5 linked regions of the Homo sapiens genome follow. The protein of the gene in region 2 purifies or fractionates together with the protein of the main gene of each other region. This does not show direct contact. Each region holds a gene or a part of one and is shown on either strand. Other genes may lie near its edges. The genes, in order: VEGFD, PDCD2L, NEK7, SLX4 and FPR2.

Region 1 (5,807 bases), on a different chromosome or scaffold from region 2:
GGTAGCCAAGAAATTAGAGAATGATTTGTTATTTAAGAGTGAAATTGCTAGTAGTCTTGAATTAATTACCATAAAAAAGCTGCCGCTGTAATAAAAAGCAGAGATCTGGTAACCCTGCTTCATTCACTTTCTTCCTCTTGATGAAAACCTTTTAATTATTTTGATTTTGATTAGCACTTCCATCAGAAAATAGGAAGAAATTAGGAGCAATTTACTTGGCAAAGGTTTAGTAATTAAAACCACTGAAATCAATGGTTTAAGTATGTATTTGGGATAAACACATTTTTAATTGTTATTTTTGTCTTACCCAAGTGGATAACATAAAGTTCATTATACAAAAATCAACCAGTGCAGAAAGCCGATTGGGAACAAACAACCATTCTTGAACCCTTTGAAAATGTATGCCCTTGATGAATTACTTGTCAGGTTTCTACTTAAGTTTAATTGTTAGTACTTCCACTTAAAATAGCAAAATGACTGTCTGCAATTTCTGTTATTTCAAACTAGGTTTTAAATTCTGGGGTTGAAAGTAAGCTTAAATAACTCTGAGTACTTGAGTAAACACTGCATTTTTTATGATGAGGCAAGTTGTATGAGCCATTTAATTACTTTAATTCAATCCAGAGATTTGATATTTTCTCCTGAGTTCTCACAGTTGGATAGTTTAAAAATATTTCTAAGATTGAATTGAATCCTGTAAGAACTATAATAAAACCATACATCTGCCTGTTTTCTTTCTTTCTCTTTCTCTCCTTTCTTTTCTTTCTTTCTTTCTCTTTCTCTCCTTTCTTTCTTTCTCTTTCTCTCCTTTCTTTCTTTCCTTCTTTTCTTTCTTTCTTTCTTTTCTTTCTTTCTTTCTTTCTTTCCTTTCTTTCTTCTTTCTTTCTTTCTTCTTTCCTTTCTTTCTTTCTTTCTTTCTTTCTTTCTTTCTTTCTTTCTTTTTCTTTTTCTTTCTTTCTTTCTTTCTTTCTTTTTCAAGATCGTGCTCCATTGCCCAGGCTGGAGTGCAAGTGGCGAGATCATGGCTCACTGCAACCTTGACCTCCCCAGGCTCAGGTGATTCTCCCACCTCAGTCTCCTGAGTAGCTGGGAGTACAGGCATGCACCAGCATGTCTGGCTAATTTTTGTATTTTTAGTAGAGACAGGGTCTCACCATGTTTCCAGTCTGATCTTGAACTCTTGGGCTCAGGCAATCCTCCCACCTCGGCTTCCCAAAGTGCTGGGATTACAAGTGTAAGCCACCATGCCTGGCCTTGTATTTTTGGATAATATTGAGTGAAATTTGCCTCAATACATAAAAATCCTTTCAATATGCTTCAACTCTAAAATCTTTAAAAAGCTGCTTGGTTTCATTATTTTCACGTGGAAGCAGCATTGTCACAAAGTTTTATTTTGAAGACTGAATTGTATATGGAGTACTGTCCAACTAGAAGAGAATGAATAATCAGGAAAAGAGAGACTATTGACAAATAAGACTTAATGGAGAAGCATTGAATTTCAAAGCTGCCAGAGACATTAGCAATTGTTCAGTTTCATCTCCAGATTTCTTAGATGAAGAAGCTGTGGCAAGCCAATTTCACAAACCCGATCTATGATCCTCATGCTCCCCACTCCTCTCACTCCCACAATTTTGCCTTGATTCAAACTTTATCGAAAAGTGAGAAATCACAGGTATGAGCTCACTGAGCTTCCCAGGCAGTCTTGCCATCTACAAACCCATGTCATTCTGTATTTTCCTCTTGTTTCTGACAGTGATCCTCTCATCTAGTCACACTACATCCACTTATCTCTGGCACTTATGTCAAAACAACCCCTCTAGGTCCTGCCTTAGCTCTCCTGCATATGCTTTTTCTTTCTTCCTGTCTGTTGCCTCTTTCCCCCAGCTTATAATTCTCCCGCTTTTATTAAAAACATGCACCCACAGACACACACTCACATCTGGATTCCCAAGTGCGATAACCTTGTAGATTCATATTTTCAGATCGTTCTTAGTCCACAGAATATAAAATTGATTGAATGATGGCAAACATCTGCAGATGACAATCATTTACAGAAATGGCACTAAAGCCATGAAGCTGAAGCTGCAGGACTTATGGATCTGGGCTAGAAGACAGGGGCCATCAAAAATTTAGCTTCAGTTGGAAATCGGCTCTTTTAGTGCACTACATCAGATCCATGAAAGAGGAAGGAAGAGTTACTGCTCATTGCTGCCTGGAGCTGTGACTTCTATGAAATTACTTAACGGGGCAAAGGAGGAAGCAGATACTTCCTTGCAACTAGGACGTGAGCTGAGCTGATCCCTGAATCATAAATACTCAACAAGATTCGGATTCAGGACCCAGGGTATTATGGGGTACAACCATAAAACTTCTAAATGTTGGAGAAAGAATAATGAGAAAGAAAAATGAATCTCTGAATGAAAATGGAACTACTAACCAAAATTCCAAATCACGTTAATATAATTATTACTAAGAATGACAGCAACAAAATGAATAATCAGTATATGTCATACCTATAAAGTTAAAATCTAAAATAATTTGAAGAAATACTTAAAAATATTTGCAACCCTCAAAGAGATAAAGAAATAATATTCATAAAATTGAAATGACAAACTAGGGGCAGGGCGCAGTGGCTCACGCCTGTAATCCCAGCACTGTGGGAGGCCGAGGTGGGTGGATCACAAAGTCAGGAGATCGAGACCATCCTGGCTAACACGGTGAAACCCTGTCTCTAATAAAAATACAAAAACAAAATTAGCCGGGCGTGGTGGTGGGCGCCTGTAGTCCCAGCTACTCAGGAGGCTGAGGAGGGAGAATGGCGTGAACCCGGGAGGTGGAGCTTGCAGTGAGCCGAGATCGCGCCACTGCACTCTAGCCTGGGCAACAGAATGAGACTGGGTCTCAAAACAAACAAACAAACAAACAAACAAACTAGGAAGAATATACAGAAATGTAACAGAAAGTAGATAGGAAGAAGAATGAAGTAGAAATGCTTGAAATTAGAAATACGGTGATTGAAATTAAAACCTTAACAAAGTAAACTCTAGACTCACAACAATTGGAGAGTTGGTGATTGGAAAGATGAACCAATTAATTTACCCATAACACATTAGAGAGAGGTGAAGAGGAAAAAATAGCTAAATATAAAAGCACATTTAAGAGACATGTAAGATGATTAAAAGCCTCCAACATTTTTCAAAAAAGAGAGTAGAGGCAATATTATAGGTGGAATAATGAAAATGATAATGGCTGAGAATATTAAAGAATTGAGAATAAAAAAGACAAGTGGCCTCAGATTGAAACTGCCATGAAGGTCTCTGTCTCAAATTCTCAACTCTGCTTTTGTAGTATGAAAGCAGCCGTAGACAATAAGTAAATGAATGGACATGGCTGTGTGTCAATACAACTTGATTTACAAAAACAGGCAGGCAGCAGGCTAAATTAGGCTGGGAGGTCATAGTTTGACAGCTCTTGATCTAAAGAATAACCATTGTTGGCCAGGCGCAGCGGCTCATGTCTGTAATCACAACACTTTGGGCGGCCAAGGCGAGCAGATCACTTGAGCCCAGGAGTTCAAGACCAGCCTGCGCAACATGGCGAAACCCCATCTCTACTAAAAGTACAAAAATTAGCCGGGCATGGTGGCAGGCTCCTGTAGTCCCAGCTACTTAGGAGGCTGAGGCAGGAGAATCGCTTGAACCTGGGAGGCTGAGGTTGCAGTGAGCGGAGATGGTGCCACTGCACTCCAGCCTGGATGACAGAGCCAGACTCGGTCTCGAAAATAAATAAAGAATAACCTTTGTTTACATTTTCATGTATATGTCTCCAGATGTTCCTCATATATCCATATAAGTATGTATATATGATGTACATAAGTGCATAAGTAAAAATACATAAGTAATTTTAAAAGAGGTTATATCATAGCTGAATCACACATGACTTAGACCACACTTGCTCTTCTGAGTACCCATTTTTGGACAACTCTCAGTGTCCACTAGCATGTCTAAAAAAAATTTCTCCTCCTAAAATGCTAATGCATGATGTAGATTTTAACTACAGCTTTTGAGGCTCAGTGGAGGAGAGTGTACATCACACTACCCAATGCAAAGCCTTTTAACAGCCCCTTTTGCTCATCTTTGTTTTCCTTCACTGTTCCTCGCCCTGCAGCAGGCAGCTGACATTCACCTTTCCCTTCCACCCTCCTCTCTCAGCACTGGTCCTTTGCCTCCTCCCTCATCCCAGCTCTACAAATGGCCTCAGCCTGCATATTCCAACCACCCAGCAAAACAAACATCTAGTAACTACCGGGTCAGCAAGAGAAAATCGGAGGCCCTAGCCATAGATAGATCACCTTATCATTTCTCCAGCACATTCCAGGAAGGATCTCAATTCGTTCTGTCCCAATATACCTCTACATCCTTTGTTTTGATGATCACATAGAATTCATTGTATGCATATATCATTATTTATATAACTAAGCCCCCAATTTTGAACAAGAGGCTACATACTGAAAATCTTTTATCTACCAAGTCTTTTTTTTCTTACAAACCCATCCAATACAGTTGCACTGTATCCGCCAATACAGTTCATGCAACTGTATGGAAAGCAAACTCTAGAAGAGTATTTGATAGCTCCATAAGAATATTAAACTCTTATACTTCTAGAGCGTAAAACCCCAGAAAAGTATTTTGTCAGAAAAAAATCATGTTTTTGAAATAGTAGGTTTTAAAAGAAAACAAAGAGAGTTAGAAGTAAGAAAATTCAGGTTATCAGGGGCTTGATATCTTTTTTTTGTGACTGTAGTCAGGTTACCCAGGCCTTTGTGGATCAATTTCTCAAACAAATAACAGAGATGAAAACAACTGTCAGTAGCTACTGTCACAAAAATAATATGATAAACATCTTTTCGTTTCCTATGGCTGCCATAACTAATTATCACAAACTTGGTGGCTTAAAATAACAGAAATGTATTTTCTCACAGCTCCAGAGTCCAGAATTCCAAAATGGAAGGGTCAGCAAGGCTGCACGCCCTCAAAACACTCTTGGAGAGAATCTTTTCTTGCTTCATCCAGCTTCTGATGGCTCTAGGCAATCCCCCGCTTGTCACTGCATCACTCCGGTCTCTGCCCCCATCTTCAAATGACCTTCCTCTGTGTCCCTGTCTTCTCTTCTGTCTCTTATAAGGACACTTGTCATTGTACAGTATTTAGGGTCCACATAGATAATCCAGGAGGATCTCATTTTAAGATCCTTAACTTCATTACATCTGTACAGATCCTTTGTCCAAATTAAGGTAATGTTCACAGGTTCTGTGGGTTAGGATGTGGACATATCATTTTGAGGCCCACCATTCAATGCACTACAATTTTCTTTGTAAGTGTTCTGAGAACCCAGGAAGAATAAGTAAATCCTCTGATTCAATCAAAAATGAGCAGAATGTAAACCAAAAATACTAGAAGATATCCTTTTTCCTAGGCACTGGCATACGTTTCAATAGTATCTCTAATTACAGATGTATTTACACTTCTAAGTGTCAGAAATGAAGATTATTATGACAAATTTAAAATTTAGTAACTTGTTTTTAAACTGGTATTTTTGTTTTTTTAAGCGATCATCTCAGTCCACATTGGAACGATCTGAACAGCAGATCAGGGCTGCTTCTAGTTTGGAGGAACTACTTCGAATTACTCACTCTGAGGACTGGAAGCTGTGGAGATGCAGGCTGAGGCTCAAAAGTTTTACCAGTATGGACTCTCGCTCAGCATCCCATCGGTCCACTAGGTTTGCGGCAACTTTCTATGACATTG
Region 2 (5,807 bases):
TCTGTCACCCACGCTGGAGTGAATTGGTGTGATCAAAGCTCATGCAGCCTTGAACTCCTGGGCTCAGGCAATCTATCTTAGTTTCCCAAGTAGCTGGGAGTACAGGTGCACACCACCATGTCTGACCAATTAAAATTTTTTGAGTTTCGCTGTTGTTACCCAGGCTGGAGTGCAATGGCACGATCTCGGCTCACTGCAACCTCCACCTCTCAGGTTTAAGCAGTTCTCCTACCTCAGCCTCCCAAGTAGCTGGGATTATAGCCATGTGCCACCATGCCCAGCTAATTTTTGTATTTTTAGTAGAGATGGGGTTTCACTATGTTGGTCAGGCTGGTCTCGAACTCCTGACCTCAGGTGATCCACCCACCTCAGCCTCCCAAAGTGCTGGGATTACAGGCGTGAGCCATTGTGCCTGGCCTAAAAATTTGTTTTAGCCACTGCACCCAGCATTTTTTACTATTAGAATAAAAAAATTACAATAGAATATTTGGAGAAATGGCCTGGTTCTTTACCAGAACTGTTTCATTTGTAGGCTTTTTCAGAATAATGATGAAGGGGAATGCATGAAGACATGTTGGTGTTTGAAAATAATCCTTAATAGAATTGATGGTTATAAGGACTTTTTATTTTTTATTTATTTATTTATTTATTTATTTATTTATTTTTGTGTGTGTGTGATATGGGCTCTCTTGCCAGGCTGGAGTGCAGTGGTGCGATCTCGGCTCACTGCAACCTCCCCTTCCTGGGTTCAAGCAATTTTCTTGCCTCAGCCTCCCAAGTAGCTGGGACTACAGGTGCGCGCCACCACACCCAGCTAATTTTTGTATTATTAGTAGAGACGGGGTTTCACCATGTTGACCAGGATAGTCTCAATCTCTTGACCTCGTGATCCACCTGCCTTGGCCTCCCAAAGTGCCGGGATTACAGGTGTGAGCCACCGCGCCCGGCAGGATTTTTTATTTTTTAATTTCTTAAGTTTTTATGTATTTGCTTATTTTTGGTGGGTTTCTTCAGACTAGAGTATTCTTCTTTTTTTTTTTTTTTTTTTTAGAGATGGGATCTTGCTTTGTTTCCCAGGCTGAACTGCAGTGGTGTGGTGTGGTTATGGCCTTTTTTTTTTTTTTTTGAGACAGTCTTGCTCTGTTGCCCAGGTTGGAGTGCAGTGGCACGTTCTCGGCTCACTGCAACCTCTCCCTCGCCGGCTTAAGCAGCTCTCATGTCTCAGCCTCCCGAGTAGCTGGGACCATAGGCGTGCGCCACTTCACCCAGCTAATTTTTGTATTTTCTTTTTAGTAGAGATGGGCTTTTGCCATACTGGCCGGGCTCTTCTTGGAGTTCTGGCCCCACGTGATCCGCCCACCTCGACCTCCCAAAGTGCCGGGATTACAGGTATTAGCCACCACGCCCAGCCTGCTCATGGTTTACTGCAGCCTCAAACTCCTGGCCTCAGGGGATCCTCTGGCCTCAGCTTTCCCCATAGCTGGGACTACAGGTGTGTGCCACCAAACTCAGCTAATTAAAAAAATTTTTGGTTTTTTTGAGACAGAGTCTCACTTTGTCACCCAGGCTGGAGTACAGCGGTGTGATAATGGCTCACTGCAACCTCCAGCTCCCAGTTTCAAATGATCCTCCTGCCTCAGCCTCCCAAGTAGCTGGGATTACAGGTACCCGCCACCACACCCGGTTAATTTTTGTATTTTTAGTAGAGATGGGGCTTCACCATGTTGGCCAGGCTGGTCTCAAACTCCTAACCTCAAGTGACCCACTCTCCTTGGCCTCCCAAAGTGCTGGGATTGCAGGCGTGAGCCACCGCACCCAGATGAAAAATACATATATATATATATATATATAAAATAAATAATAAAATATATATATTAAAAAATATATATGAAAATATATATATTTGAGACAGAATCTCGCTCTGTTGCCAGGCTGGAGTACAGTGGCTCAATCTCAGCTCATTGCAACCTCCACCTCCCAGGTTTAAGCAATTCTCCTCCCTTAGCCTCCTGAATAGCTAGGATTACAAGTGCATACCACCATGCCCAGCTAATTTTTGTATTTTTAGTAGAGACAGGGTTTCACCATGTTGGCCAGGATGGTCTCGATCTTTTGACCTCGTGATCCACCTGCCTCGGCCTTCCAAAGTGTTGAGATTACAGGTGTGAGCCACTGTGCCCTGCGACTTTTTAAATTGTAAATAATTACTCAAGAGTTGAAAATGGCTTGGGAGAAGGGTTGGGCAGGGAACTGCAGAGCTACATGTACACAATTTAAATATCAAAAATATTTACTTGACAGTTTTTGGCTGAGTGCGGTGGCTCACTCCTATAATTCCAGCACTTTGGGAGGCCGAGATGGATCACTTGAGGTCAGGAGTTGGAGACCAGCCTGGCCGACGTGGTGAAACCTTGTCTTTACTAAAAATACAAAAATTAGCTGGACGTGTTGGCGCACACTTGCAATCCCAGCTACTCAGGAGGCTGAGGCAGGAGAATTGCTTGAACCCAGGAGGTGGAGGTTGCAGTGAGCCAAGATTGCACCATTGCACTCCAGCCTGGGTGACAGAGGGAGACTCCCTCTCAAAAAAAAAAAAAAATTACTTGACAGTTTTACAGTTTTTTAACTTTGACAGTTTTTTTTTTTTTTTCTTTTTGAGACAGGGTCTCACACTGTTATCCAGGCTGTAGTGCAATGGTGTGCTCACGGCTCACCACAGCCTTGCCTCTGGAATAGCCGGGACCACAGGTGCATGCCACCATGCCCAGCTAATTTTTGTATTTTTTTGTAGAGACAAGGTTCTGCCAGATTGCCCAGGATGGTTTTGAACTCCTGAGCTCAAGTGATCCGCCTGCCTCGGCCTCCCAAAGTGCTGGGATTACAGGCGTGAGCCCACTGCACTGGCCTGAGAAATTTTTTTTTGAGACGGAGTTTCACTCTTCTTGCCCAGGCTGGAGTGCAATAGCGCAATCTTGGCTCACTGCAACCTCCATCTCCTGGGTTCAAGTGATTCTCCTGCCTCAGCCTCCCAAGGAGCTGGGATTACAGGCGCCCGCCACCACGCCTGGCTAATTTTTTGTACTTTTATTAGAGATGGGGTTTCAAGATGTTGGCCAGGCTGGTTTCAAGCTCCTGACCTCAGGTGATCTGCTCACCTCGGCCTCCCAAAGTGCTGGGATTAAAGGCGTGATTGATTTTTTTTTTTTTTTTTTTTTTGAGATGGAGTCTCATTCTGTCACCAGGCTGGAGTGTAGTGGCATGGCACGATCTCGGCTCACTGCAACTTCCGCTTCCCGGGTTCAAGCGATTTCCTCTGCCTCAGCCTGCTGAGTAGCTGGGACTATAGGCGCAAGCCACCATGCCCAGCCAATTTTTTGCATTTTTTAGTAGAGATGGGGTTTCACCATGTTGGCCAGGATGGTCTCGATCTCCTGACCTTGTGATCTGCCTGCCTCGGCCTCCCAAAGTGCTGAGATTACAGGCGTGAGCCACTGCGCCTGCCCTGATAAAATTTTTTAAAAGAAAATTATCTTGTTTTGTCTTGCAAATGCTGTAATTTTCTGGATATAGACATTCAAAAGTGTTTTCTGCTTCTGTTTTTAGCCTTCCTAATGATGGTGATGAAAAATATGAGAAGACCATAATTAAAAGTGGAGATCAGACGTTTTACAAATTCATGAAGCGAATTGCTGCTTGTCAGGAGCAGATTTTGAGGTAAAAAAAGGCACAGTTCCTTTTATTGTTTTCCTTGATTATAAAGGAATACATATTAGTTTGGAAAACACAGGAAAATATGAGAAAAGCAAAACCTACAGTATTCCCCAAACCAAGAGAGAACCTAATACCTGCTTTATAGGACCTAATACCTACTTTATAGGATGTGTAGGAGGATTCAGTAAGGTAAAGTGCACTCACTTGTCTAACAAATACTTACGAAGTCTATTCTGCATGCCAGTTGCTGGTATTTGTAGGTGCTGCAGATATAGCAAGAAACGGCACAGATGAAGTCCATGTTCTCATAGCCTTTATTATTATTATTATTTAATTTTTTTTTTTCTTTGAGAGGGAGTCGCGCTCTGTCGCCCAGGCTGGAGTGTAGTGGCGTGATCTTGGCTCAATGCAACCTCCACCTCTTGGGTTTAAGCCATTCTCCTGCCTCAGCCTCCCAAGTAGCTGGGATTACAGGTGCCCGCCACCCTGCCCAGCTGATTTTTTTGTATTTTAGTAGAGATGGGGTTTCACCATGTTGGCCAGACTGGTCTCGAACTGCTGGCCTCACGTAATCTGCCCACCTCAGCCTCCCAAAGTTCTGAGATACAAGTGTGAGCCACCATGCCTGGCTTTTTTTTTTTTTTTTTTTTTTTTTTTTGGGGGCAGGGTCTTGCTCTGTTGCTCAGGCTGGAGTGCAGTGGTGTGATCAATCATAGCTCAGTGCACCTTGACCTCCTGGGCTCAAGTGATCCTCCCACTTCAGCCTCCCAAGTAGCTGGGACTACAGGCATGTACCACCATGCCCAACTAATTTTTGTATATTTTTTTAGAAATGGTATTTCACCATGTTGGCCAGGCTGGTTCCAAACTTCTGGGTTCAAGCCATCCACCTGCCTTGGCTTCCCAGAGTTTGTTCTAGGATTACAGGCATGAGCCACTGTGCCTGGACTATTATTATTATTAAAAAAATATTTTTTTAGAGAGAGGGTCTCAGTCTGTTGTCCACCCTGGAGTGCAGTGGCGTGATCATTGCTCACTGTAACAACTACCTCTTGGGCTCAATCGATCCTCCCAAGTAGCTAGAACTACAGGAGTGTGCCACCATGTTTGGCTAATTTTTAAAAAATGTATTTTGTAGAGATGGGATCTGATCATGTTGCCCAGTCTGCTCTCAAACTCCTGGCCTCAAGTGATCCTCCTGCCACGGCCTTCCAAAGTGATGGGATTACCGGCATCAGCCACGACCCTTGGCCCATATATTTATTTTTATTTTTTAATTTATTTTTATTTTTCTGGGATGGAGTCTCGCCCTGCCACCCAGGCTGGAGTGCAGTGACGTGATCCTGGCTCACTGCAATCTCCGCCTCCCAAGTTTAAGAGTCTCCTGCCTCAGCCTCCCGAGTATCTAGGATTACAGCGCCACCACGCCTGACTACTTTTTGTATTTTTAGTGGAGACGGAGTTTTACCATGTTGGTCAGGCTGGTATCGAACTCCTGACTTCAAATGATCTGCCCGCTTCAGCCTCCCAAAGTGCTGGAGTTACAGGCTTGAGCCACTGTGACTAGTGGGGGAGATTAAAAACAAACCTGTATGATTCCCATAAGTGATAAATGAGGAAAAAATAGAGCTATTTTAGGTAGGCTATCAGAAAGGCCTCAGAGGAAATGACATACCCAGCAGGTATAATTTATAAAAATAGCCACATAGTAAAAACAGGTCCAGACAAAGTGGGCAGAATTAGCTCAAATGGTCTTTTTCCCCGATACCTACCACAGTGAATCTAAAAGCTAAAAATCAGGCCAAATAAAATAAATATTAAAAAAGAAATTCCCTTGTATCAGCACTGAACAAAGGAAAAGGGCTTAGTACCATAAAACTCAAAGTGATAGCCCAGGATATAATATCCATAAATGTCTAGTAGAGTTCTTGAGTGTTTAACATATATATTTATTCACTTATGTAACTAAGTTATCTTTGCAGAGAAAGGTACAGAAATTTCCGGCATGGTTAAGTGCAAGTTCTAATTCCACAGGCCTTTTCTCTCACCTGCCTAAAATATACTGATGAGTCCACAAAGAATTTTCTTTTTTCGGA
Region 3 (5,807 bases), on a different chromosome or scaffold from region 2:
AGTTTGTTATAATTTCTGTTCTTTTACATTTGCTGAGGAGAGCTTTACTTCCAAGTATGTGGTCAATTTTGGAATAGGTGTGGCGTGGTGCTGAAAAAAATGTATTTTCTGTTGATTTGGGTTGGAGAGTTCTGTAGATGTCTATTAGGTCCGCTTGGTGTAGAGCTGAGTTCAATTCCTGGGTATCCTTGTTGACTTTCTGTCTCGTTGATCTGTCTAATGTTGACAGTGGGGTGTTAAAGTCTCCCATTATTAATGTGTGGGAGTCTAAGTCTCTTTGTAGGTCACTCAGGAGTTGCTTTATGAATCTGGGTGCTCCTGTATTGGGTGCATATATATTTGGAATAGTTAGCTCTTCTTGTTGAGTTGATCCCTTTACCATTATGTAATGGCCTTCTTTGTCTCTTTTGATCTTTGTTGGTTTAAAGTCTGTTTTATCAGAGACTAGGATTGCCACCCCTCCCTTTTTTTGTTTTCGATTTGCTTGGTAGATCTTCCTCCATCCTTTTATTTTGAGCCTATGTGTGTCTCTGCATGTGAGATGGGTTTCCTGAATACAGCACACTGATGGGTCTTGACTCTTTATCCAATTTGCCAGTCTGTGTCTTTTAATTGGAGCATTTAGTCCATTTACATTTAAAGTTAATATTGTTATGTGTGAATTTGATCCTGTCATTATGATGTTAGCTGGTTATTTTGCTCGTTAGTTGATGCAGTTTCTTCCTAGTCTCGATGGTCTTTACATTTTGGGATGATTTTGCAGTGGCTGGTACCGGTTGTTCCTTTCCATGTTTAGTGCTTCCTTCAGGAGCTCTTTTAGGGCAGGCCTGGTGGTGACAAAATCTCTCAGCATTTGCTTGTCTGTAAAGTATTTTATTTCTCCTTCACTTATGAAGCTTAGTTTGGCTGGATATGAAATTCTGGGTTGAAAATTCTTTTCTTTAAGAATGTTGAATATTGGCCCCACTCTCTTCTGGCTTGTAGAGTTTCTGCCTAGAGATCCGCTGTTAGTCTGATGGGCTTCCCTTTGAGGGTAACTCGACCTTTCTCTCTGGCTGCCCCTAACATTTTTTCCTTCATTTCAACTTTGGTGACAATTATGTGTCTTGGAGTTGCTCTTCTCGAGGAGTATCTTTGTGGCATTCTTTGTATTTCCTGAATCTGAATGTTGACCTGCCTTGCTAGATTGGGGAAGTTCTCCCGGATAATATCCTGCAGAGTGTTTTCCAACTTGGTTCCATTCTCCCCGTCACTTTCAGGTACACCAATCAGACGTAGATTTGGTCCTTTCACATAGTCCCATATTTCTTGGAGGCTTTGCTCGTTTCTTTTTATTCTTTTTTCTCTAAACTTCCCTTCTCGCTTCATTTCATTCATTTCATCTTCCATCGCTGATACCCTTTCTTCCAGTTGATTGCATTGGCTCCTGAGGCTTCTGCATTCTTCACGTAGTTCTCGAGCCTTGGTTTTCAGCTCCATCAGCTCCTTTAAGCACTTCTCTGTAATGGTTATTCTAGTTATACATTCTTCTAAATTTTTTTCAAAGTTTTCAACTTCTTTGCCTTTGGTTTGAATGTCCTCCCGTAGCTCGGAGTAATTTGATCGTCTGAAGTCTTCTTCTCTCAGCTTGTCAAAGTCATTGTCAGTCCAGCTTTGTTCCGTTGCTGGTGAGGAACTGCATTCCTTTGGAGGAGGAGAGGCGCTCTGCTTTTTAGAGTTTCCAGTTTTTCTGCTCTGTTTTTTCCCCATCTTTGTGGTTTTATCTACTTTTGGTCTTTGATGATGGTGATGTACAGGTGGGTTTTTGGTGTGGATGTCGTTTCTGTTTGTTAGTTTTCCTTCTAACAGACAGGACCCTCAGCTGCAAGTCTGTTTGAGTACCCGGCCGTGTGAGGTGTCAGTATGCCCCTGCAGGGGGGTGCCTCCCAGTTAGGCTGCTCAGGGGTCAGGGGTCAGAGACCCACTTGAGGAGGCAGTCTGCCCGTTCTCAGATCTCCAGCTGCCTGCTGGGAGAACCACTGCTCTCTTCAAAGCTGTCAGACAGGGACATTTAAGTCTTCAGAGGTTACTGCTGTCCTTTTGTTTGTCTGTGCCCTGCCCCCAGAGGTGGAGCCTACAGAGGCAGGCAGGTCTCCTTGAGCTGTGGTGAGCTCCACCCAGTTGGTGCTTCCCGGCTGCTTTGTTTACCTAAGCACGCCTGGGCAATGGCGGGCGCCCCTCCCCCAGCCTCGCCGCCACCTTGCAGTTTGATCTCAAGACTGCTGTGCTAGCAATCAGGGAGACTCCATGGGCGTAGGACCCTCCGAGCCAGATGCGGGATATAGTCTCCTGGTGCGCCGTTTTTTTAAGCCCGTCGGAAAAGCGCAGTATTCAGGTGGGAGTGACCTGATTTTCCAGGTGCCGTCTGTCACCCCTTTCTTTGACTAGGTAAGGGAACTCTCTGACCCCTTGCGCTTCCCGAGTGAGGCAATGCCTCGCCCTGCTTCGGCTCGCGCATGGTGCGCGCACCCACTGACCTGCGCCCACTGTCTGGCACTCCCTAGTGAGATGAACCCGGTACCTCAGATGGAAATGCAGAAATCACCCGTCTTCTGCGTCGCTTACGCTGGGAGCTGTAGACTGGAGCTGTTCCTATTCGGCCATCTTGGCTCCTCCTCCCCATCTATGGTGGGCCTTAGCTTTTCTAAGAGGTATGAGGAGCCATTGAAATGCTTAAAGTTGAAGCATCACCTGGCTAGTTAGGCAGTGCTAGAGAAATAGGAAGACAACTGAAAGCAAAGCCGTCAGCTGGAAGACTATCCAAGAGTGTGGCAGTGGAGATGGTGTGGCAGGAGCAAACAAAAGGTTTAAGGAGCCTGAGACCAATAGGACTGGTTGCTGACGGTTAGGCAGGTGGGAAGGAAGTATGATGAGATGTTTGATATGAATTTCAAATTTTTGACTTAAGAAGTTGGAGGTGCTGTTAGGAAGAGCTGGTTGGGGAGAAAAAAATACTAATATTTCAGTTTTAAACATGTTTAATGTGAATATTTACGTGCAGCTCTACTCAGAAGGCAGTTGGAAGTATGGGAACAGAGCCTGCAAAGAGGTCTAGGCTGGAGACAGATAACCTGTGTTCCTCAGCATGTTGGTGGTTATTGAAGGCATGGGAGTAAGTGCAGTTGTTGAAGATAAGAAGGAAGAGTGAAACAGGAAAAGAGTTAAGGAAAGGAAAATATTTAGGGCATACCAACATTTGGTAGATTTTTCAAAGGAAGATAAACCTCCAAAAGAAACTAGGAAGAAAACGTCAGGGAAGAGAAGGTCTAGGCCGGAATTGAATGATGTAAATCCAAAAGGATAGAGCTGACCAGGATGAAAGGGATTGGAAATGGTCTCAGTCAAATCAAACACAACCATACTGGAGGAAGGGAGGGAGAGACACAGAAGGACAGTTGTGTGTGCTTACATTTCTGATGTGACACAGCATTTTAAGAAACAGGCTGTGTCCTTGGAAGACAGAGACTAAATTGGTATGAAGGTGAAGATTACAGTCAGGTAATCAAAGAGATTTATATTGATTCACATCAAATAAATGTGAAAGTGACCCAAGATGAGGGTTGCAGTACTTGGAATGGAGAAGGATACTGTCAGCTGTGTGGGTATCGATACCTCCGTGTACGAGGTGCAACAACTCATAGTTAAACAGATTTTAGAAAAAGAGGAAAGTAATTATTTCCTCCTCTGGGCAGCCACACTTAATCTTTTACCTTTATCTCACAGATATCTCTTGAGATACCTATCACTTTGTAGTTTATAATAGAATTATTTCTGTGATTTCCTCACTTTCACATTTGTTTCTTTGTTCTGTCTATCTTCCGCTAGATTGTAGGCTGTTTAAGGGCCTGTGCTGTGTATTTTTCATTATTGCTTTATCCTTACTACCTAACAAAGTGTCTGGTACATAATAAATACTCCATTGGAAACTATTGAATGAACAATTGAATGAACGGATGAAAATGGAAGAGGGGGCAAAAAGAAAGAACAAAAGAGTCAGATGGTTAGAAAGGAAAATGAGTCATTCTCTCACTTCTCATGCTGGACAACAAGCCTTCCCTTGTGGACAGGTCCTTTGTCTTATCCGGTGCCATCAAGTATCACCAGCATAGTGTCTCTTGCAGAGTAGATCATCTAGAAATGTTGCTGGAGTGGATAAGTGGGAGCATTCCCAAAGCATATTTTAATTTCGTAGGTTTTCTTTCTTTTTATACTTTATTAATTTTTTAATGTAACAAATAATTGAGGAAAAGTTATCAACAGATTGATTCATAAATATAGTAAAGTATGCATATTCTGTATTTCACATATCTGATTTTATATGGTGATAGCCCTTTTGATTCTTCTGGAAAAGGAAACTCTTTATGACAAGATACACTTCGTATTTGGTGGAGATTGAATCAATAAGTGGGGAAGGAAAAGCAAACTCCAAGGTGCTGTGGCTCTGCCTGTCGCAAGGTCACCAATTGACCTGTCATCCCTTTGAAAGGCCATCCTTAAAGGAGCAGTTTAGAAGCATCTGCTCACTGGCACTCCCACTACCTATTTACCTTATTCAGTGTCTTTCTCCCTTTTTGTTATTCCCAATTCTTGTCTTTTTACTTTGGTGAACTAGAGAATCACTGTCTGCTTCAACTAAACGTGCATCATTATATCTCTAATCTTGGTTTTTCCTCATGCCAGGAGAACTTAAGGGCCAGTCATTCATTCTTAGTGGTTGGAAATTCTACCCTATTCTGAATTATTACACAGGAAAAGTTAAGGTTTCTGAACCAGCTTGAAGGATGTGGCAGTGTTAGGAAGTCAAAAAATTGTTTACTGCATGCATCTACTTGTATTTTAGCTAAATATAATGAACTTTTTGTACCATGGTTATCTTTTCCTGCTATTCTTTCTGCTTGCTTTCTTGTTTTTATCTCTAAAGAAAATATCTGACAGCTAGATGACCCATTAGAACACATTATCTTTTAAATTATGTGTCATTATGTAAGTGCTTTTCCCACTTTCTTCTGCATTGTGTATTACTGGATATATTTATTTTTTTTTTTTTTTTTTTTTTTGGTAACCTGGTAAAATGCCAGTCTCTTTCTGATGTAAATTTCTCTTAGATCACCATAATAAAATGCTTTGTGTATTGCTGTACCCCTTAAGGGTTTTAAATGCTGTTCTCTGCTCTTTTGGAAGGAATATAAATTAAAATCTTCAGGCTCTCCCAGTGGGTGTAACATTACTATGAAACATTGTTGAATTTCCAAGTGTAGCTAAAATTGATTCATTAAATTTCATTCTGCTAGAATCGTAAAATGTAAGAGATTAGGATGAGAACAGCCCTTATAGGTCATCCACTCCAACTTCCCTATTTAATAGATGAAGAAATGAACCTCCAGAGACAGTGACTTACCCAAGGGCACAGAGCTACAAAGTGCCTTCAACAAGACTGGTTTCCATTTCACTGTACTCCTTACCAAACTCTGACCCTTCATCTGGCAGACTCTTTGACCCACCTCCTCTTTCAGAATGACATTTCTCAGTGCCATTAGCCTTCTCCATAGCACTAGCAACATCTTCAGCCCAAGCTTTTTAATCATCACTTGTATTTTCTCTGGTTGAAAGTTATTTTATGGTAGAAATTGAGAACTATGAAGAAATTGTGCTAATTTAAAAATTTACTAAGTGCTATATCGTGGCCAGAGTTAATGCAAATTCTCAAAATGTCTAAACTGTTCCTAAAGAGACCTACAAAGCAAAAGAATATAGTTTTTCCTCTTAGT
Region 4 (5,807 bases), on a different chromosome or scaffold from region 2:
AGGTCCTTCCTGAGTTTCCAATCCCATGATCCCACAGTCGGTACCCTCTAGTGCAGGGGTCCCCAACCCCCCAGCCTCGGACCAGTACCGGTCTGTGGCCTGTTAGGAACCTGGCCACACAGCAGGAGGTGAGCAGCGGGCAGGCAAGCTTTACTGCCTGAGCTCCGCCTCCTGTCAGATCAGTGGTGGCATTAGACTCACAGGAACACAAACCCTGTTGTGAGCCGCACATGCATGGAATCTAGGTTGAGCTCTCCTTATGAAAATCTAAAGCCTGATGATCTGAGGTGGAATGCTTTGATGCTGAAACCATTCCCCTACTCCTGTCCCATGGAAAAATTGTCTTCCATGAAACCAGTTCCTGGTACCAAAAAGGTTGGGGACTACTGCTTTACCACATCTAAGAATTTGGTAGTCACTTTACTCCATCCATTTCGTTGTTGGACAGCATGGTTTCCACCTCAGCACAGTCCAGTTTTCACACTGTTAACATAAGATTACTCAGCACAGTTCACAGATTTGGTGATTGGCCAGGCACGGTAGCTTACACCTGTAATCTCAATACTTTGGGAGGCCAGGGCGGAAGGATCACTTGAGCCCAGGAGTTCAAGGCCAGCCTGGACTACATAGCAAGACCCATCACTACAAAAAATTAAAAAATTAGCTGGCTGTGGTGCTGCACACCTGTAGTCCCAGCTACGTGGGAGGCTGAGGCGGAAGGATCACTTGAGCCTGGGAGGCCAAGGTTGCAATGAGCTGTGATTGCACCACTGCACTCCAGCCTGGGCGACAGGGCAAGAACCTGTCTTCATAAAACAAACAAAAACAACAACAAAGTTGGTGCAACAGAAGTGTAGGACCCTATTTTTTAAAAATCTTGCATGAATTAATGCTTAAAAGTTAAAATGAGTTGCCTTGCTCACAGCCAGGAAACAAGTCCTCAGCATGCAAACCACAGCCACACAAGTGCCAGAGGGCTGGCCCTGCTCCACGCTGCCCTGCTGCTGAGGACGCTAGAGCTGACACCAGGTTCATAGTGAACAAAGGCATCTTGGACCTTTGACTCCTCCAGGTTTGAGACCGCTGTCAGGAGCAAAGGGAAGGCCAAAGGCGATAGCTGTTTGTCCCGCCCCCTGCTTTGCACACAGGTCATGGGCAGCTGAGCTGGCTCGGGGCTGAGATGGCAGAGGGCAGAGGGGATTCTCTTGGTGGAGGAGCGCATCTGTATTTAGCATGGCAGGGGTGCAAGCCTTGAGGCCTTAGAATAGACGTCATCTAAGCCATTGTTTCTTTCTTGGCAGGACCACGCCAAAAGCACCTGCTCAGATAAAGTATGTCTGCCTTTAGAATACCTCCAAGTACTGAAACTAGATGTATGTGGATCCGTTTAGAAGGTTGTCAGAGTAGAAAACTACAGGAGCTGGATGCCCTCATGGGGTCTTTGAACCCCTCCCTCCCCAAAGGCCAAGCCTGTGGTCATCAGAACGCATGCCCCGGCCAGAGTGCCTCATATTCTTTCCCCACAGCCCAAACCTGGCCTGCTGGGGAGTGAGGAGGGAACACAGTCTGTGTTCCCTTCACAGAAGCAGGGTCCCAGGCTGCCCAGGCAGCTCCTTTCCCTCTGGGAGGCTGTGATTATCCACGTTCCTGGGAAGGTGAACTTGAGCCATCCCTGGCACCCTGGAGAGCATGAGCTTTTGCAAAAGCCAGAGGCATGACTGCATTGCAGGGAAGGTGGGCCCGGTTTGTGCTAAGTTCCTTTGTCACCTCTGCCCTCCTCCTTCTTGCCCAGCTTATTGGGAGTCACCCAGGCAGCCTAGGTTCTCTCCAGCCGGAAACTCCTGTTCATTTCCTCCAAACCAAACGAGCTGCTGCCCGTTGAAAGTGCAGAGTCCCGGGGCGGCTGGTATAATGTTGACCATCGGCAGCCTAAGCTGGGAAGCCCTTCCTTCTGGCCATGGACAGAGGCACTGCCGTGGAGCCCTTGCAGGAGGGAAGGGATCCTTTTCTGCCGGTGTGGCCAGGACCGTGTAAGGAGCATCGGAAGTATTGATGGGTGAAGGTGGTGGGAGTCCAGGGAGCCTGCTCAGAGCCATCGATTGTTGACTCCATTGGATGGGCTTGGCCACATGAGGATGTGCAGGTACCACAGATGGCTCCGTACATCTGCCATGAGCCTGCTGGACAGCAGCACGTGAAGGAACCCAGACCCTCCTGTGCCTGGGCCATGTTGAACTTCTGGCCTGGAATTGAATGAGTTCACACAAGGCAGTGGAAGTGGGGGACGCATCTGCCTGGCAGGTCCACATCCGTCACTTTTCTCTCAGGCCCAGCCCTCTCCAGACCAGTGTGACCAACCTGAGAAGCGTGCACTCCTCTAGCCCCAGTAACTTTTCTCTTTGGCTGTTTTCTAGCTTCAGTGATCACAGTAGAGGTCTGAAACGGAGAGGACCCACCAGCAAGAAGGAGCCACGGAAGAGGCGGAAGGTGGACGAGGCACCGTCCGAGGACCTGCTGGTGGCCATGGCTCTGTCCCGGTCGGAGATGGAGCCGGGTGCGGCTGTACCAGCGCTCAGGCTGGAAAGTGCCTTTTCTGAGAGGATAAGACCAGAAGCAGGTTTGTGTGATCAGAAGAGTGACCCTGGGAGAGGCCATCAGCAGGTCCCGGGTGAGTGGACCGACTCCACCGTTGATGGTGTCGCTTTTGTTTCTCTCTAGAGAATAAAAGTCGCAAGAAGAAACCCCCGGTATCCCCCCCATTGTTGTTAGTCCAGGACTCTGAAACCACAGGCCGACAGATAGAGGACCGTGTGGCCCTGCTCCTCTCTGAGGAAGTGGAATTGTCTAGCACGCCACCACTTCCTGCCAGCAGGATTTTAAAGGAAGGGTGGGAAAGAGCGGGCCAGTGTCCTCCTCCACCTGAACGCAAGCAGAGCTTTCTGTGGGAGGGCAGCGCACTGACTGGGGCCTGGGCCATGGAGGACTTCTACACGGCCAGGCTGGTCCCTCCTCTCGTGCCCCAGCGGCCTGCCCAGGTGAGTCCCTCCCCTCAGGCACATGGATAGGCTTTTGGGGGAGGTTGGCAATCCCAGAACTGCAACACTGGGTACCCACAGCCAGGTGATGGAAAGTCCAGGAAGGAAAGGCAGAGGCGGGAGGAGGCCAGAGGGGCACTTGGTGGCTGCAGCTTTCTTCTCTGTCCAGCAACTACATGGTACTCTGGGTAGGATCAGGGAGGACCCTTGGTGTCCACCAGAGTGTGTTCCTGGAGTTTGTTGAAAATGCAGAGTCCCGGCCGGGCGCAGTGGCTCACGCCCGTAATCCCTGCACTTTGGGAGGCTGAGGTGGGCGGATCACGAGGTCAGGAGTTCGAGACCAGCCTGGCTAATATGGTGAAACCCCATCTCTACTAAGAATACAAAAATTAGCCAGGCATGGTGGCACACACCTGTAATCCCAGTTACTTGGGAGACTGAGGCAGAAGAATCGCTTGAACCGGGGAGGCGGAAGTTGCAGTGAGCCGAGACCGTGCCATTACACTCCAGCCTGGGCAACAAAGTGAGACTCTGTCTTGAAAAAAAAAAAAAAAACAGAGTCCCAGGGCAACTGGCAAAATGCCTCAGATGGAGCCCGGAAACTGGCATTCGGAGCACACACTCCAGACAGTCGTGCGGCAGGTAGCCCTACAGTCAGTACGCAGCTGCCTGAGGCAGCTTGGAGGACTTCAGGAGGGCGGCAGGCCTGGGCCCCCCTGGCCTCTGACAAGCCTTTGTGCAAACAGATGCCACAGGCCTGGCCTTGGCCGTGACAGAGGAGGAGCATGTTGACATGAGTGCTGGGGAAAAGCATCCCAGGACTGCTCCAGGCTGTGGCTGGAGCCCCGGGGACAGTCTGTCCCCACAGCCCACATCCTGCTCTGTAGTTTTAGGTCCAGCCGTGCATACCACATGTGATGGCTTCTGCAGTGTGTGCGTCAATGACAGTGACCACGTGGTCACTCTCCTTACTGGCTTCTTTCAGGGCCTTATGCAGGAGCCCGTGCCGCCTCTGGTGCCACCTGAGCACTCAGAGCTGAGCGAGCGAAGGTCACCCGCTCTCCACGGCACCCCCACTGCAGGCTGTGGCTCCAGGGGCCCGTCGCCTTCGGCCAGCCAGAGGGAGCACCAGGCCCTGCAGGACCTCGTGGACCTGGCGAGGGAGGGACTGAGCGCCAGCCCGTGGCCCGGCAGTGGGGGCCTGGCTGGCTCGGAAGGGACTGCAGGTGAGATGCTGGGTGGGACTCTAGGGCCAGCCCTGCCCTCCCGGGCCTCCCCTCCCCGCGGCTGAGGCTGCCATGGACTGGCTCTTGTGCCGCCGCGACGGCAGCTCTGACCTGGTGGGAGAACACGCAGCCTCTGGGCGCTTTCATTTTTTCTCAAAGGTCAATGTGGTGTAGACAACTCTGTCATGATTTTCCTTCCACTTTAACCAAAGACAGAGCTGTCTGCCCACAGCGAGTGAATCCTCTGGGTGAACTGTCTGTTTTGCTCTTCTCTTACCTCCCTGGTGGAGTGGTGGTGAGACAGGGTGTGCGGGTTTGCTTTGCATGAAGGTGTCCTCGGATAGCAAGCACCTTCCGAGGCACCGCAGGGGCTGGCTCAGCCTGTGGTCAACGCTGTCTTCTTGGTGGTGGATGTGGCTGGGCTGTGACGTTCCTTTAACCTGTGAATCCTCCACTCAGGGTTGGACGTGGTGCCCGGCGGCCTTCCTCTGACTGGGTTTGTGGTGCCATCGCAGGACAAGCACCCGGACAGGGGCGGCCGCACCTTGGTAAGAACTGGCTCTGGCCCGCGCTCTCTGGTCCCGGCCATCCCACTTGCCATGTGTGTGGTGGGGTTGGCTCACCGCTGGCCTCTGGCCCCCAACGCAAGTGCAGTGGCCTCTCAAGGCCTCTGCTTTCCAGAAGGCTGCCACATCCTGACATCCGTGAGCAGAGCCACGGACCCACAGCCACCTCAGCGCCCCTCTGGGGGCTCTGCCACGAGACTTCTGCCTTTTCTGTCTGTGACTCCATGGGGCACCTTGGGGTTGAGGCCCCAGAGCCTGCCCTGTCCTGGGTCCCAGGAGTGTAGAGGGACCACAGTTTCTCAGCGCGGTTGCCCCATCCAGGCACGCTCTGCTCGTTCCTCAGTAGTTGGGAGCTCACCAAGGGCTTGCTCTCCCTCCCCTCTGTGCGGGTCCTGGGCTCCAGAGCACAGCTGAGCAGCCTGGCCTGGCCTCCCTGTCAGTGCGCTGTCTGGGGAAGAACCGGGGTGGGAACTGGCTTTTCCCTAGAGTGGACCTCCTCCCATTTGCATGTCAGTGTCAACCAAGCACTTCATGCCAAGGCCAGCCTAGGGACATCATCACAGACTGGACCCGGCTGTCCTCTTGGCCAGGTCCCCGAGCTGCTTGGACTCAGGGTGCTTGTCCGTCACAGGGGATGGGTGCACCTCCTCAAAGCCCAGGTATCCCGCAGCCTGTCCCACTCAGTGCGGGAGCTGCCAGCACTGTGAGTTCACATCTAGCCCCATGTCTGGCATCTCCACGGGGGCCAGGGAACCCACTGGCAAGAGCCAGAGGAACAAGCTAGTGCTTTGCTCTTCTGTGCTACTCAGGGCCTTAGGGTCACTCAGAGGTTGAGGCCATCGTGGGAAGCGTTTTGGAGAGGAAAGGAGAATGCAGGTCCTGGCTCCCGGCCCACCCTAGCGCCACCTCCATGCGGGGAGCTTCCCACTGCCCAGTTAGCAGAGCAGAGGTGGGGAGGTGACGGCTCTTCCTCTCCTCCT
Region 5 (5,733 bases), about 17 Mb from region 2:
AGCCTGGGTGACAGAGTGAAAACCTGTCTCAATCAATCAATCAATCAATCAATAAACACTATGTTAATAAAATAATGAGGCAGCCCCTTATGTACTAATGTGATACTATTTTTGTATCTTACTGCCTAGAATTTACCCACACCTAGCTGGAAGGATGACTGAGAAAAGGATTATTTTAGCTGAATGAATTGCTGCCCACATTTGTTAATAAAGTAGGGGGAAGAATATTGGGTAGGCAGCTGGCAGTCTCCAGGGGAGCTTACGCCTTTGGGTACTCAACAGTCTCTACACTCTTCTCCCCAAACAGAAAAAGTGGTCCTGTTCTTCCCATGGACACTATCCCCAGAGTTTTATTTTGGACTTCCAGATTCGAGCAAGTCTAGAAATGTTTATTGGTGGTGAATGTCCCATAAACACCAAGAATCCTCAGCTTCTGAAGACCCCAGTACACAAGGGTGCAATTGGAACTGAGAATCCACAATGGCAACTTCCAATGAAGAAAAGAAAAATGGGGAGGATGCAGCAGGCACTGTTCCAGTGCAATTAACCAAGGCCAGTGGGAAGGAAAGTAAGACTCCTCTGTCCTGGCAGTGGAGGAAGGCTGTTAACTAGCCAGTCTAGAAGCCGTGGTTCTCCTGTTTCAAGGTCATATGCTGTTCTTGGCTCCAGGTTTCTCCTTCTTGCGTTTTCTCTTTGTTCCTTATTTTCTATGGCCACAACTTAGTCGGGCATTAAAGGGTATACTTTTCTTAGGAACTGGAAAGCATTTATAGGAGTCAAGAATGCAAATGAACTAAGTAAACTTCTCTGTTTTGGAAATGTTGGAAATGTAAATAACTTTAGGGGAAACAGGAGGGAAAGGGAGAAGCGGTGGAGTGAGTGAGGACGCTGATAACAGGACTGCCTCATATTCGTGTAGAGTTCTGTCTTTTGCCAGTGCATCCGGAAAGTATGTTCCGCACCGAAGGACCATTTCTGAGTGGTCATTTCCTGTAAGCAAAGTAAAGGGCTGAGTACCTTTGTGGGTTGATTTATTTCAAAACAAAGGCGTGAGGCAACAGTTAGCCATGGTACTTTCCTTAAAGCAGAAGCTCAAAACCAGAAATTGATGAAAAAGTAAGCCACATGAGTATTTCTAAATATTGTGTGCTTGAGGATGGGTGTTTACTGGACATGGTCTGGTTCATGTAATAAGGGTTGGAGATAATTTTGATTTGACATTAAAACTTCTCACTTGACACCTAGGTGATACTATTGTTTATTGATTCATTTATTCAATGAGTATTTAATGAATGTCTATTACATATCAGACAGTATTTTACACATAGAGGATGGGGTTCAATCAGCAAACCATACAGACCAAAATCCCTGACTTCAGAGAGCTTACATTTTCGTTGTTTAAAAGAAACTGTATCTCCAAAGGCTGTGCTCTAGGATAATAACAACAAGAAGAACAAAAATCAGAAATTAATAAATACATAAAAGAAAGCATTTCAAGTTTCATACTTTTTTTTTTTCAGACAAAGTCTCACTCTTGTCCCCTAGGCTGGAGTGCAATGGCACAGTCTTGGCTCACTGCAACCTCCACCTCCCGGGTTCAAGCAATTCTCCTGCCTCAGCCTCCTAAGTAGCTGGGATTACAGGTGTGCACCACCATGCCCAGCTAATTTTTGTATTTTAAGTAGAGATGGGGTTTTACCATGTTGGCCAGGCTGGTCTCAAACTCCTGACCTCAGGTGATCCACCCTTCTTGGCCTCCCAAAGTGCTTGGATTACAGGCATGAGCCACCGCACCCAGCCAAGTTTCATGCTGTTTTATAACTTTTAAACAGTTATTATACTATTTTATGCCGATGAGTTTGACAGTTTGAATGAAATGGCCAAACTCCTTGAAATTCAGTTTACCAAAACTGACAGATAGGAAAAAACAAAAAACCAAAAAACAGAAGAGTCTAATCACTGTTAAAGAAAACAAACTTGTTATTAAAAATCTTCCCAGAAAGAAAACACAAGACCAAGTTGGCTTCACTGGTGAATTTTTCTGAATATTTAATAAAGATATAACACCAGAAAACAGAATCAGAGGAATTACTTCTCAATTCCTTTTCAGAGACCATTACAAGTTTCTCTTTGTTCCTTATTTTCTATGAAAACTTAGCAAGGATAGTAGAAAAAGTGAAATAACAGTATATAAACATAAACACAGAAATTCTAACCAACTCCTGTGAGATATAAATATTTAAAGTACATCAGGACTAAGTGTGGTTTATTCCAGGAATTCAAGAGTAGTTTAACATTCAGAACTTAATGAACATTATTTATAATGATTTACATAAAAGAAGAAGAATAATATGACCATCTTAATACATGTAGAAAATGCATTTGATAAAATGCAAAGTCCACTCATGATGTAAGAAAAAGAAACAGAAAACTCTTAGCAAACTAAAAATAGAAGAAAACTTCCATAATCTGATTTTTTTTAATAGCTATAAAAAACCTACAGCAAACATTTTACTTTATACTTTAAAGTCTTCCCCTTATTATGCGCTATCTCATCTAAGTCTTACAAATCCCCACTGGTCTTTCTCTTCTTGTATTTCCCAACTCCACTTACCCCAGGGTATAGGCAGAAGTCAAAAAACAAAAAATAACACTAATATTTTAGTAGCCTGACTGTCTATTTCTTAGCCCCAAATCAGGGACACAAAAGCATTTTTCCTGAATAAATACTTGAGCTGTGCATCCTTGAATGCCTCAATATGACTCAAGGGTAGATGAAGCTGGAACTGGCATTAGGGTAGGATGAACAGAACTCAAAATATCCCTGACCCCATCCTCACATTGCCTGTAACTCAGTCTCTGCAGGAGGTGAAGCAGAATTGGCAGCCGTGTCATTAGTTGGGGCTGAGTCCTCAGACAGGGCCCTCTCCAGACTGGTGGGCAGGGAGTGGATCAGTCTCTCTCGGAAGTCTTGGCCCACAAAGACGTAAAGCATGGGGTTGAGGCAGCTGTTGAAGAAGGCCAGGGAGCTCGTTGGGTTAACCAGGATGTCAATGATTTTGTACTTGCCATAGAACAACATCTCTTTGAGCCAGACGGTGCCCAGAAGGGCAACCAGTTGAAAGGGAAACCAACAGATGAAGAAAGAAGCCACCACAGCAGTGAGGACCCGTAAGGGACGGCTGGATTTAATCATGCCCTTTTTGTGGATCTTGGCTGCAATGAGCCCATAGCAGATGGCAACAATGGACATCGGCAAGCTAAAGCCAATGACAAACCGGATAATCCCTCTGGCTGTCAGCATGGTAATGGCCACCTTCAGCCTCTCCTCAGGGGTGCCACCCCAGGATGCAAAGTTGAAAGTACAGTATGTGTCCCCATTTGGAATAGTTACTGTAGTCAAAAAGAGGAAAACTGGCAAGGTAAGGACTAGAGCAAGAATCCAAGGTCCGACGATCACCTTCATGGCCAGACTCACAGTGCGGTGGTTCTGGGCCCAGACTGGATGCAGGACACAAATGCAGCGGTCCAGTGCAATGAAACCAATCAAGAAGACACTTCCAAAGAGGTTGATGTCCACCACGATGTGAATTAACTTACACAGGAACCAGCCAAAAGGCCATTTTTCTCCCATGGCCATGGAGACAATGAGGAATGGTAATGTGGCCGTGAAAGAAAAGTCAGCCAGGGCCAGGTTCAGGTAACAGATGGTGGTGACTGTGCGTGTCATCCGGAATCCAGCCACCCAGATCACAAGCCCATTGCCCAGGACCCCGAGGACAAAGGTGACCCCAAGCACCACCAATGGGAGGATCCGCAGAACAGTGTAGCCAGCAGACTCATAGGACACTTCTTCATATTCATTCAGAGGAGTGGAGAAGTTGGTTTCCATCTTGCCAGCAGCACCTGAAACATTCCAACAATGGCCATTTCTCAGCTGTGGAACCATCTTACAGCATCTGTATTTATAGCTCACATCAACTTCCACTAAAGCTCCCACTCCTACCAGGAGACCCACTCTATCTACCAAGCCTTGTTGACAACGGTGCTATAGAATTGGCATTCTCTTGGATGCTCCTTTGGGAAGGGATAGTCCTCCATATTCCCATCATTATCAATATGCATTTCGCTTATCGGGCTGATCACTTCACCAAGAGGATTACAAGGCTCATACTGAACTTATGTTGTATGGACAATGGAAAATTGAGCATAGGCAGCCTCAGCATTGTGAGGAAGGCACATGACTCAGAATCAGAAGGCTCACATCTGTGTCTCCCACCATTCAATGCAAACATGCTGGCAAGCTCTGCAATCTCTTTCAGCCCCAGGTTCTTCCAGTCTCCCAACTCCTGTCCCTCAAACTGTGAGAACCCTTGACCTATTGCTTGGCTAGTACTCAAGATAAAGTTTGAGGGTTTGGCTTGAGGTTATTGTTGAAGAGAATTTTGAGGAGTCACTGGTAACATGTAGTAGTATGTTATATCCTGAGGATTCTGCACTAGAGGAAGTCAGCAAAGAGAGTTCCATCTCTGCTTTCTACCCTCTGCTTTTCCCTGTCCCTGCTTGATGTGGAGCTCTTCTCTGTTTGGAATGCAAATAATCAGTGCCGATTTGTATAGCTTTGGTGTCTGTGGGATAAAGACTATAAGAATAATAAGTTGTATTAATACTTGTGAAGTTCTTATTAGAGACTATGCATTGTGTTAATTACTACATATGGGATCCGGTTTGGCCTATGTAATAGCTATGTAATATTCATTACTTCTAGTTTTCATTAGAATAAATGAAAGCTCAGGGCAATTGTGAAATGTGTTGAAGGTCACTTAGGTAGTAGATAATAGATTCAGGACTTCAGTTTGGCATGGTCTGACTTCTAAACCCTTACGCTTGACAGATATTGCTGGTTGCCCACCCAGCAACGGTTCCCCATTCTTCTCTGCTTGAAAAACCACAATTGTGTTTAGTTACTCACCCTGCAGAGAAGGTGTCTTTTCTCCATGTTGGGAGTAAATCCTGACTAGTCTAATTAGCACTAACCAGAATCCCTTTTACTTTGCAAGGGATTGCTTTGGTAGTGGACACGTGACTAAATTGTGGACAATAACATTGTAAGAATATGACCCTTCAGAGCTTCTCAGATCAAGTTTTTTTGTTTTTGTTTTTTTCTTTTAAGAACAAAAACCCAAAACATGTAGTCCCTGCCTCTGGTCCGGATCACATCTGTAATATTTGTATCCAGTTCAACACAAAGTCCCACGTCACCTGAGCACATTTTCTTATGCCGTGGTCTGTGGACTTTATCAGAAACATCCAGGCTGCCTGTTAAAATTGTATTCATTATCCTTAGCAAACTAATGCAGGAACAGAAAACCAAATACCACATGTTCTCATTTACAAATGGGAGGTAAATGATGAGAACACATGGACACAAAGAGGGGAACACTGGGGCCTACCGGAAGGTGGAGGGTGAGGGGAGGGACAGGATCAGGAAAAATAAGTAGTGGGTATTAGGCTTAATATCTCAGTGATGAAATAATCTGTACAAGAAAACACCAGGATACAAGTTTACCTGTATAACAAACCTGCACATATACCCCTGAACTTATAATAAAAATGAAAAACAATTATATCCATAAATCTCATTCTAGAATCTGTATGTGTAAAAGCCAGGATGATTTGCTATGGCCATGAGAATTTGAGAATCATCTCAGACTGGGCTATTCAGCATCTTTA

Evidence for each region.
Region 1: the proteins of PDCD2L (region 2) and VEGFD purify together in Homo sapiens (co-immunoprecipitation; one large-scale study listed by IntAct). This does not show direct contact.
Region 3: the proteins of PDCD2L (region 2) and NEK7 purify together in Homo sapiens (affinity purification with mass spectrometry; one large-scale study listed by BioGRID and IntAct). This does not show direct contact.
Region 4: the proteins of PDCD2L (region 2) and SLX4 purify together in Homo sapiens (co-immunoprecipitation; one large-scale study listed by IntAct). This does not show direct contact.
Region 5: the proteins of PDCD2L (region 2) and FPR2 purify together in Homo sapiens (co-immunoprecipitation; one large-scale study listed by IntAct). This does not show direct contact.

Annotation. Positions count from the first base shown.
Region 1 is NC_000023.11:15,363,121-15,368,927, reverse strand, and holds part of VEGFD (vascular endothelial growth factor D preproprotein), read left to right. Parts: intron 1-5,608; coding exon 5,609-5,807. UniProt on the Homo sapiens protein: Growth factor active in angiogenesis, lymphangiogenesis and endothelial cell growth, stimulating their proliferation and migration and also has effects on the permeability of blood vessels.
Region 2 is NC_000019.10:34,410,134-34,415,940, forward strand, and holds part of PDCD2L (programmed cell death protein 2-like), read left to right. Parts: intron 1-3,603; coding exon 3,604-3,714; intron 3,715-5,807. UniProt on the Homo sapiens protein: Over-expression suppresses AP1, CREB, NFAT, and NF-kB transcriptional activation, and delays cell cycle progression at S phase.
Region 3 is NC_000001.11:198,312,805-198,318,611, forward strand, and holds part of NEK7 (serine/threonine-protein kinase Nek7), read left to right. Parts: intron 1-5,807. UniProt on the Homo sapiens protein: Protein kinase which plays an important role in mitotic cell cycle progression. Required for microtubule nucleation activity of the centrosome, robust mitotic spindle formation and cytokinesis.
Region 4 is NC_000016.10:3,594,607-3,600,413, reverse strand, and holds part of SLX4 (structure-specific endonuclease subunit SLX4), read left to right. Parts: intron 1-925; exon of another isoform or gene 926-2,253; coding exon of another isoform or gene 2,254-2,414; coding exon 2,415-2,617; intron 2,618-2,718; coding exon 2,719-3,035; intron 3,036-4,020; coding exon 4,021-4,261; intron 4,262-4,720; coding exon 4,721-4,809; intron 4,810-5,807. UniProt on the Homo sapiens protein: Regulatory subunit that interacts with and increases the activity of different structure-specific endonucleases.
Region 5 is NC_000019.10:51,766,818-51,772,550, reverse strand, and holds the end of FPR2 (N-formyl peptide receptor 2), read right to left. Parts: intron 3,907-5,733; 5' UTR 3,893-3,906; coding exon 2,837-3,892; 3' UTR 2,020-2,836; downstream 1-2,019. UniProt on the Homo sapiens protein: Low affinity receptor for N-formyl-methionyl peptides, which are powerful neutrophil chemotactic factors. Binding of FMLP to the receptor causes activation of neutrophils.